Linked DNA regions of Homo sapiens: region 1 is linked to region 2. The links come from fine-mapping of genetic effects on gene expression. A gene starts in region 2. The other region holds a variant in brackets. All regions are shown on one strand. Distances are from middle to middle. Region 1 holds the start of LOC124900270 (small nucleolar RNA SNORD5). Region 2 holds the start of C8orf90 (chromosome 8 open reading frame 90).

Region 1 (5,362 bases), 68 kb after region 2:
ACACCTTCCAGCTGTGGAGGGCCCTGGGGGCTGGGCAGCCCACGAGCCACCTGGTGCTGACCACACTGCTGGCCTGTCTGCAGGAGCGACCCCTGCCCACCGGTGCCAGCGACAGCAGCCCCTGCCCCAAGGAGAAGACCTACCTGCGTTTGCTGGCTGTGAGTCTCTGCCACCGCCCCATCAAATACTGGCAGCACCTCGGGCACTCACTCTGTGCCGGGCTGTAGGGGGGCACCCCATATCCAGGCTGCAGACACCCAGTCCAGCCCCAGCCTGGAGGAAAGCCGCCCAGGGCTGACCACACAGGCCCAGCTCCCACCTCCTAGCCGAGGGCTGTGAGCTCCTGTCTGTGAATCAGGACAGTCGTGTCAGTCCCCTGGGCTGGCAAGGGAACTCACTCACTCACTGTGGGGCGGCCTCAGAGAGGGGCTTCAGGTATAGGGAAGGGTGTGGAGAGAGTTGAGAACCCTCCCCATGCTTGGGTTCTGGGGAGTCATAGATTCTAGAGGAATCTTAGAGGCTGCCCTCTGCAGCCGCCACCCCCCTGTAGGAAGCCCCTGGTTTTCCTCATAAGCCCAGCACTGCTTCCACACTCCCAGGAGCCAGGAGCTCCCCTCCTGGCATGGCCACACCTGTCCCCCTTACCTGGACCCTGATGAGGCCACAGCTGTGTTCCTGTTTAGAGCTTTCCAGGCTGAGTCCCTGCCCCAAAGGCACCCCAGCAGTGGCCCAGAGCTCACAGCAGCTCCCCTACCACCCAGAGCCCCCCAGACAAGCTGCTGCCTGCAGCAGGGGTGTGATGAGGGCTTAACAATGGCAGCCGGTGGGAGAGCACCCCCTCGGCCTGGGGATTTATCAGCTGGCCATCCCCAACAGCCCCGCCCCGGTCGGCCCTGGGCTGATGCTGCCCCCCTACCAGAGGACCACACAGCAGCATGGGTGAGACCCACCCAGGGGTAGCAGGGGAGCCTTCCCTGCACCCCACCACACCGCCAGTTCCTGCCCTCCCCCCAGTTGTCACTGCTCAGTGCTGGCCCCACCCTGAGAACATTCTGGACTGAAGGCTCCGGCAGGCACATTCGGCCTTTGGGGTTGGGGGCTGCTATCAGCTGACTCTGCCTTCCAGGGCCATGGGTTCCCCAACTCCCAGGCATCAGGCCCTGCTGTGTGCCAGCCACAGAGCTGAGGGTACCGTGAGACCACACAGCACAGGACCTTGCCTTCAAGGCAGTAGAGCAGAGGGCCCAGACGCCAGCAGCTCACCCCTTAGACAGGAGCAAAGTGCAGAGGGCAGATGGTGGCATCCAGTGTGCGGTCTGAGGGAGGCCCTGGGTCAAGGTGGAGGTCTGCAGGAGTGTAGAGCGGACAGCATCCAGGTGGACAGCTAGGGGAGGCTGGGGACCACTAGGCCATCCAGCAGCAGCGAGACCCAAGCGGTGGGTCCAGAGGGTGCAAGAGACGGCCAGGCTGAGTCTGCAGAGGCACGGGGTCAGGCCCCACAGGGAGGGACAGCATGTGGACACTTGGACTTGGTCCTGGAGAGCTTGCAGCAGGGAGGGACGAGCATGCTTGGACGTGGCTTTTGTGGGACAGTAGGTCAGAACCCCTGGTCCCGGGACCCAGGGCCTGGGAGCCTCACTCCACGCCTGCCCCCGACAGGCCATGAACATGCTGCACGAGCTGCAGTTTGCCCGGGAGTTCAAGCAGGCCGTGCAGGAGGGCTACCCCAAGCTCTTCCTGGCCCTCCTCACCCAGATGCACTATGTCTTGGAGCTGAACCTGCCCAGCGAGCCCTAGCCCAAGCAGCAGGCCCAGGAGGCGGCCGTGCCCAGCCCCCAAAGGTAAGACTAGAGCCTCCCAGGCCTCCTGGCCTGGCCAGACACACATAGGGTTCCGCAGGCATCCGAGGGCAAAGACTGTGTTAGCCTCATAGAGCACAGTAACAAAGACGCATACCCCACGGACTCAAAGCAACATCTCCCAGTGCTGGAGGCCAGAAGTCTAAAACCAAGGTGTCACCAGGGCGTGCTCCCCTGAAACCTGCGGGGGCCTTCCTCACTGCTTCCGGTTCCCAGTGTCTCATGGCCACGCTGGGTGTTCCTGGGCCTGAGGCTGCACCACGCTCATCTCTGCCCCTGTGGTCACCTGACATTCTCCCTTGTGTGCCAGTGTTTAAATTTCCTCCTTTTTTTTTCCAGCTCTGTCAGAATTAAGCTTTCGTTCATGTCTGTTGAGTGGTTCAGCAGTTGAACAGTTAAATTCAGCATCTGAATAAATTTCCCCTTCTTATAAGGATACCAATCACTGGGTTAGGGCCCCACCCTAACGACCTCAACTTGATAACATCTGCAAAGACCTTCTTTCCAAATAAGGTCACAGTCACAGGTACCGTTGGTTGACTTCAATATATCTCTTTTCGGGGGGACACAGTTCAACCCACAACAGTCATGAACCTGAGCCCCATCCATGGCCAGGGCCACAGGGGCTGTGGGCAGCACCTGCAGACAGGTGTTCGTCCCACTTACCCGTCACCTGACGGTGCTTGGCAGTAGAGATACTTAGTGTCACTGCCATACAGCGACCTCAAGGGGACAGCAGTTACCAAAAGCACCCATGCAGTGAGCCACATCTTACCCCAGTGGGTTTCCTGCGAGGACTCGAGATGAATGTCGTTGTCCCTGCTCTACAGATGAGGCAACTGAGGCTCAGAGAGGGTCAGAGGCTTCCCCTGGGCCACACAGCATGTCCATGCAGAGGCGAACTGGGCTCACCCATGGGGCAGATGCCTTTCCATGCCCTCTTGGGCATCTCATTGGTCCTCAGCACATGCTCAGGCTGACATCACGGCCAGTTGCCCGCTCCCC[C/G]GCCCACCGTATTCTGGCCTCAGTAGGGCTGCCTGCCTTCATCTTCCCTCTGCACCAGGTCATATTTCCAAAAATCCAATAAGCAAGTCTAAAAACCGCTGGGGCCAACTCTTTTCATTTGTTTGTATTATGATGTGCGTCACGCAATTTGTCAGTTTTAACAGCTCTCCCCAAGGCAAGTCACTTAAAAAAAATGCCACTTCTTCTCATCTTGCCTCCGAATTCAAATGTGCACGAAGTTCCTTTTTTATTCAGTTCAACCATGCAAAATGCATGAATCTTTCCTAATAAGCTAATAAAACCTTCTCCTCCCGGAACGTGGGAGGGTTGGGAGAAAGCCTCACCCCGTCTGCTCCTCCCCCTGCTGGAATGTTCTTCCCCCAGCCATCCTGTCTCTGCAGGCTCTGCTCACCCGCACCTCACTGAGGCCTCCCCCACCACCCTCCAAAATAGCAGCCCCTTCGGCGCCTCCCACCCTCTGCTGCTTTATTCTCGCCGCAGCCCCGCCATCAGCTACCATCTGTGATCTGCGCCTTTTACCTGCTTTACTGCCCTCACCCATAGACTGGAAGGTCCCGAAGAGCCAGAGACATCTGTCTGTCTCTCGCGGGCTCCCCATACAGCAAGGACGTCTGTCTGTCTCACTGGGGGCTCCCCATACAGCAAGGACGTCTGTCTGTCTCACTGGGGGCTCCCCATACAGCGGGAATGTCTGTCTGTCTCACTGGGGGCTCCCCATACAGCGGGAATGTCTGTCTGTCTCACTGGGGGCTCCCCATACAGCGGGAATGTCTGTCTGTCTCACTGGGACCTCCCCATGCGGCTGAGACATCTGTCTCTCGCGGGTTCCCCCACCAGCAAGGACGTCTGTCTCTCTCAGGCCCCTCATACAGCTGGGACATCTGTCTGTCTCGGGCTCCTCATACAGCTGGGACGTCTGTCTATCTCTCTTGGGCTCCCCATACAGCTGGGACGTCTGTCTATCTCTCTTGGGCTCCCCATACAGCTGGGACGTCTGTCTATCTCTCTCGGGCTCCCCATACAGCTGGGACGTCTGTCTCTCTCGGGCTCCTCATACAGCTGGGACGTCTGTCTGTCTCTTTCGGGCTCCTCATACAGCTGGGACGTCTGTCTGTCTCTCTCGGGCTCCTCATACAGCTGGGACGTCTGTCTCTCTCGGGCTCCTCATACAGCTGGGACGTCTGTCTCTCTCGGGCTCCTCATACAGCTGGGACGTCTGTCTCTCTCGGGCTCCTCATACAGCTGGGACGTCTGTCTGTCTCTTTCGGGCTCCTCATACAGCTGGGACGTCTGTCTGTCTCTCTCGGGCTCCTCATACAGCTGGGACGTCTGTCTCTCTCGGGCTCCTCATACAGCTGGGACGTCTGTCTCTCTCGGGCTCCTCATACAGCTGGGACGTCTGTCTGTCTCTCTCGGGCTCCCCATACAGCTGGGACGTCTGTCTGTCTCTCTCGGGCTCCTCATACAGCTGGGACGTCTGTCTCACTGGGGGCTCCTCATACAGCTGAGACATCTGTCTCTCGTGGGTTCCCCCACCGGCAAGGACGTGTCTCTCTCTCGGGCTCCCCATACAGCTGGGACGTCTGTCTGTCTCTCTCAGGCTCCCCATATAGCAGGGACTTCTGCCTCGCGCGGGGCCACGGGTGGTTTCTGCTCAGGCCGCTCCGGGCAGGTTCTCCTGGAGCCCTGGAGGTGGCCCCGGCAGCTCCCGCAGCCCCAAGAGAAAAAACTCTCACCACGGGCACAGTCCTGGGCTCTGATTGGCCTAGCTTTGCTCACATACCCAATCCTGAACCAATCACCTTGGCCACAGGGGCCTGTGCGGCTCTGACTGGCCAGGCCTGGCTCCCACGCCCTCCAGGGAGCGGCATGGGCCCAGGCCTCTTCGACCACCGCGAAGGGGCCCAGGCTCCGGTTGCCAAACCAGCAGCCATGCCACCCAGCACCACCACGGAGCCAGGGAGAAAGGGAGGCCTGAGAGCAGAGTGACACCCAGGTGTATCCCGGTGGCTCACGGTCTGAGGTCCCTGCCAGGCTGCTGTGGCACTGTCAAGGTGGGGACAGGGGCCCAGAAGGACAACTGGATGAGCAGTGCTGAGTAGCCACTCTCTCTGCATGCCCAAAACGGTGGGGGCGGCACAGGACACCATGGGGCAGCAGGGGAGTCTTGAGGCCTGATGGGGCCAGCCCTGGGCCTCTGAAGTTCTCATGTCCTGCTTAGATGGACAGGCCTCTGGGACCAGGAAGCAGCGAGTGGGGTTGAGCAGGGCACCCTTCCCTGGGCAGGACTGCAACAGGTGCTGCCAGGCCTGCCAGAGGGGCCTCCCTCTCCCCTGCTCCTCCACTAACAAAGCCTTTTCCTTAGAGATGTTTCCTGCGTTGGTCAGTTCTCAGCTGGGTCCTCCTCCAGCCAGTCTCCACCCTGCCCCACAAAGGAATTCTCATTGTTCTCACACGTCATCCATGTGGGCCAACTC
Region 2 (5,362 bases):
AGGATGTTGAGGTTCTCCCTGAAGACAGTGGCCAGCTTGGGGCAGGAGGTGAAGCAGTCACTCTCAGTTGAAAGTTGATCCGGCCGCTGTGCAGAGAATGGACTTTGGGGGCCCAGCTTCAAGGTCAGATCCAGGGGAGGACAAGATGAACATGAGGATGGGAAAACGCCACCTGGGGAGAGGCTGCAGGGCCAGATCGCCAGGCCTTGTAGACAGAGACAGGGAGGAGCCTGTGGGAACAGCCTGGCTCGCAGCCTGGACACAGCTGACCCTGGAATCCAGAGGGAGGTGCGGCCCCAGGAGGGAGCGGAGGTGGAAGAGGAGTTTGGTTTTGGTTCAGTCATGCCACCCTTCAGCCTATCCGTGGTCCCCAGAAGGCACCCACGTTGCTGGCCCATGGTCCACACCCTGCCCAAATCTAGGTCCTCCATTCAGGAGAGACCCCTACATTCCTTCTTTCTTTCTTTCATTCAGCAAATGTGCTTAGCTGTAGGGATACTGAAGTGAGCAAAGCAGCCATGGGACCTCACTTGGGCACACAGTCCAGGAAAGAATGTAGTCAGGTGGACACAGGAGCCAGACCAGGCAGCTGTCTGGGGATGGCCACACTGGGAGGCTAGGAAGTGGGAATGGATGAATATGACCATGAATTGTCAGATCCTTCTCCCAACACCCTTGGGAGGGGTAACAATATTCAGTCTGTTTTACTGGTGAGGATACAGACCCAGAGAAGTCATACACAGATGCCAAGCTGAAGCCCTGGGCTGGGCAATCACTTTCCACTATGCCACGCCCCCGGCTCAAGGGCCTTTTGATTAACAGTCTCTTCCCTCTGCACAAATATTCACTGAGCACCTACTGTGTGGCAGGCAGGCTCTGTTTGAGCCATTGACTACAGCCATGAGGAGCACAGACGTGGGGGTCCTTCCACCTGTCAGGGCCTGGGCTAGTCTTTCACCTTCCATGAGCCTCTGAAAATGGAGCCAACCAACCCTGTTCTGCTGCAGTTGCAGATGAGATGACATTGACCAGCCTGTTTGATCAATGGGAAGTACTTTCCTAAATCAGCACCGTGGACAGCGCCATGCTGGGGATAAGAGTGGAGCCCAGAGGCTGGAGAAGATCCGCTCACACAAGAGCCTGGACTGCTCTGCTTGTAGAGGGGTCGAGGCTGGAGATAGACACTGGGGAGATGATGTTTAAGCCACAAAACTAGATGAATCACTGAGGGAGTTGGGTTAGAAAGGGCAGAAGCGCAAGCAGAGAGCTTCGGGTCCTCCCTCCTGACCAGGTCAAGGAGATGAGGAGCCAGTGAGGGCACCAAGAGGGAGCGGGCAGTGATGGGAGCGTGGGAAGTGTGGCAGCAGGGACCTGAGCCGTGTGCTGCCGGCGCATCACATCAAATGAGTCCAAGTGACCTCGGACTTACCAGCGCAGAGGTCATTGATGACTTTTGCTAGAGCTGCTTTAGTGAAGCACTGGAAATTAAAACCCGGTGAGAGTGGGTTCAAGAGCAAAGGAGAGGGGAGAACGTGGAGGCAGCAAAGACAAATGACCTTCCTGAGGTTCGGCTCTGAATGTGGAGCAGAGAAGTAGGGCAGGAGACGGAAGGGAAGTGGGGTCAAGAGACAGGATAAATCGCAGCATGCTTTCATGCCAGTGGGAACGACCTGGGAAAGAGCGGTATCATGATGCAGGAGAAAGAGGGTGAAGAGTTGCTGGAGTGACAGCGTGAGTTGGGGGATGGAATGGGAGAAGCTGAATGCTGCCTTTGGCTGGGAGGAGGGATGGGGCATTCACAGGAGCAGGCCGGGGTGGACAGCGCCCAATGCCACAAGTACAGTGGGTGGGCACCAGCAAAGTCCTCTTCCAATGCCTTCAGCTTCTCAGGGAAGGAGGGTGCAAGGCCAGCAGCACAGTGTGAGGAGAGAGACGATGGGGGCTTAGAGGGAGAGAAGGTGCGAGGTGGTTGCTAGGTGAGGAGAGGCTGGGCAGACCAGGGAGGGCAGCGGAGCCGGCCTCCTTGCTGCTGAAGCCAAGTGCAGGCATTAGCAAGGTGGAGTTCACTCAGCTGCAGCCCACTGCAAGGGCACAGGCAAGGGTAGCAGGGAGTTGGAGCTGCCAGACTAGTACAAGAAAACAGGAGAGGGGCCAGCGAGGGGGCAGAGGCCATGGCAAAGATGTGAGGAGGGGTGGAGGAGGCCAGACAGGTGGAAGACACTGTGGGCTTCCACCTCACTAAAGGAGTGCTGGGGCTGGCCCTCGAGGGCAGGAGCTGGGGCAAGAATCCCCAGAGTGCGGTGGGGACAAGGGGACTGCAGTTTGGGTACAGTTTGTCGGGTGGGTGGCTGGGTGAGAGGACAAAATCCTTACAGGAGTCCGAGGGGCTGAGAGAAATCACCAATAGGATGACAGGAGAGCTAGGGAGAGGGCAGGGCAGGGGCCAGGGTCTTTAGGAGTGAAGGCATTGACCATGAGCAGGGTGCACGGATGGGTGGGCAGATGAGTGGGTGGAGGAGTGGGTGGATGGGTGGATGGATGGATGGATGGATGGATGGATGGATGGATGGATGGATGGATGGATGGATGGATGGATGGATGGATGGATGGATGGATGGATGCATGGATGGTTGGGTGGATGGATGGATGGGTGGGTGGGTGAATGGGTGGGTGGATGGGTGGATAGATGGGTGAGTGAATGGATGGCTGGCTGCCCCTCCCACTGCCTCTGAGATCCAGAGCTGAGTTTTAGAAGAGGCAAGGGCAGGAGAATGATCCGGAAGGGGCCCTAAAGAGTGAGAAGGACCCTGCACACCTCCAGGTCCATAGATCCAAAGGCTTCAGGAAGAGAGCCAACCCCTTCCCTGGGGACTTCAGAGCATCAGAGCATTGGGGAGCGTAGGGAGGAGAAGGACCTTTACAGGGAGGCTTTGATGCCCGCATGCCCCCATCCTGGCCCAGCCCCACTGCCACTCTCCTTCATGACCTTGGCAGAGCATCTTCTTCTGGAAGATGGGTCAGAGGGCCGCTTCCTGCTCCCACATTCTCAGAGCCCCAGGTGCCCCGTCCCCCTTCCCGTCCATTCCCCTCCCTCACCAAGTGTCTCGCCTGGAGTGGCTACAGAAGGAGGGGGCAGACCTGCTGGGCTGGGGGTCCCAGGACAAGAGGAGGCCATGCCAGCAGCCCGGGAGACAGGCTTCTGTTTACTAGGCTGCCCAGGAGACGGGGAGGGGCCTCCCAGGGGAGGACAGAACCTTGCGTTTAAAGGGCCTCCACTCAGGAGTGGGCTGGGGCTGTGGGGGAGGCTGAGTGGGGACCTGTGGGCTCAGTGGCCTCTTGCGCACTAAACTCTCTGTGGGCATCACTGCAGCCCCTCACCCAGCACCCTGCCCCTCGCCTGGACCCTGCAGGGCCACCCTCTGGGCCAGCCTCCCATCCTTAACCCTTCCCATTGCACCCAGCAACCCTCCGAGATCAATCCCCAGTCACATCTGCTCACCTGCCCTGCTCAGAGACCATGAGAACCTGGCACCCAGAGACCGCCAGCCTGTCCCCACCAGCACTCTTCCTCCTGACTCACCTCGGGTCAGCCTGGTGTCCACAGCCGCAGCCTGTGAGTGCTCTCAGGGCAGCCGAGGCCTTGATCCAGCCTCAGCTGGCCTGTCCCTCCAGACCACGGGGCTCCCACAGGCATTCCCGAAGTCTTCAGAGCCCAGGTCAGCAGTCCCCATCTTCAGCAACTCCAGTAGTCCCTATGAAGCAGGTCAGACCTTGCCTCAGCCACAAAGAGCTCATGGGGATATCAGTTCCCCCAAAGTGGGATCAAGTGCTGGTAGGGGTGGGGACATGAGACAGAGAAGGGAACAAAGCCTGGGAAGACGCATCCCAGCACAGTTTTACCGGAGATGGCCTCAGAGCTACCCCGCCTGCCCAAACAGCCGTGGGCTGCTGTATCCCCAGCAGGTGTGGCTTGTAAGGAGCCTGGCAGCCAGAGATGGCCTCAGGGAAAGAAAGGTAAGTGCTCCCAGGGGCCTGAGCTGGGGCCTGGCTCTTCACAAGGAGAACCCCAGCCACAGACTGGGATGTGATTGAGCAGTCAATGCCCCTGGTGTTTGAGTGTCACTCATGCCAGGCTCTCTGTTACCACAGCCTCTAATACAGCAGGGCTGTGACGCAGGACAGGACGGGGCTTGACTGGGGAGCAGGGGCCCCTCCCCTCTCCTGGTCTCTGTATTTTTGCACCTCCACATCTCTGTGCAGTTGCCTTGAGAGGGTGCCCTTCCCACTCTCCTCTGCAATGCAAACTCATGCTCCCCCTTCAGGTTCTGGCTCATATCACCTCCTTCAGGAAGCCCACCTGGCCTGCTCTGTACCTGAGAGCCTCCCAGGCCTGGCTGGCACCCCATCAGAAGTCATCTGTTTGGATATGGTCCCTCCATTGCCTTCCATGGGCTCCCATGTGTCCTGGTGATGACCTCAGGCTGCACATGGTCCCATGTCCAGGGCCCTGCCCCTCGGGGCCACACCCTCTGAGCAGCCCAGGCTCCAGCTCCCTCCGCTGAGATTCCTAGGTCAGTGCCAGCCTCAGACTTAGGAAGGTGGGCATGCGGGAGGCAGGGAAGGCCAGGGTTGTCATGGCAAAACCCTGTACCCATTCTGTCTTCCCACCCCCCTGAGAACCCCTCAGGACAGGCCTGGGCCATATCCTCTGGGCCAGACTTAAAGAAAGGCCTGCTCAGCCCCAGCAGGTGAGCTGGAACCCTTCTCCCCAGACAAGCCACACTCCATGCCCTCCCCCACCTCCAGCAAGGCTGGGGTGCAGCCCAGGAGACCCAGCAGAGGCTGAAGCCCAGCCCTCCAGGCACCTGTAGGCAGGAGCACACCCAGCTCTCGGACCTCAGAATCAGCCGTGGTGAGTGTGGTCCTGTATTCACATGGCCAGCATGTGTTTTCCACCTTCCTGTGCTCCGGCCAGGTGGCCCCCCGACACCAATTCTCAAGGCAGGCGCAGGTCAACTTCAGCTCAGCCTGGTGGGCTCCGGCCGAATGATGGTCCTGAATGGCAGCTCAGCTATCAATATCATTGTGTGACTACAAGAGGAAGAAACAGTTCATCCTGACATGCTCATTCTGCAGACCGCCACTGAGCACCTCCTGGGGACCAAGCCTCAGCTGGCTAGTGGCCTCTAAACCAAGCTGTATCAGTCAGGGAGACATCTAAGCTGTTGCAACAAAGCACCCCCAAATACAGTGGCTAAAACAAGACAGAACATTTGTCTCCCTCCTGCAACAGTCCAGCCACTGCAGGCTTCGAGGGCAGCTCTGCTCCATGGGGATACTCAGGAGCCCAGGCTCTTTGGCC

The links.
Region 1: its variant is fine-mapped to the expression of C8orf90 in caudate (GTEx, PIP above 0.99). The same link has a PIP of 0.9 or more in nucleus accumbens and putamen.

The regions. Positions count from the first base shown.
Region 1 is chr8:141,444,386-141,449,747 of GRCh38, reverse strand. LOC105375789 (a long non-coding RNA gene) reads right to left here. Exons shown (of 3, transcript XR_928722.3): 1 at 2,635-5,362. LOC124900270 (small nucleolar RNA SNORD5) reads right to left here and starts at 2,273; the gene lies at 2,199-2,273. It also overlaps MROH5. The variant C/G (reference allele first, on the strand shown) is at 2,865.
Region 2 is chr8:141,512,510-141,517,871 of GRCh38, reverse strand. C8orf90 (chromosome 8 open reading frame 90) reads right to left here and starts at 3,201. Exons shown (of 2, transcript NM_001395960.1): 1 at 3,097-3,201. The coding sequence starts at 3,175. It overlaps LOC105375791 (a long non-coding RNA gene), which reads left to right and starts at 3,657. Exons shown (of 3, transcript XR_928727.1): 1 at 3,657-3,716; 2 at 3,964-4,014; 3 at 4,323-5,263. RefSeq lists silencers at 986-1,186, 929-1,223, 3,309-3,603.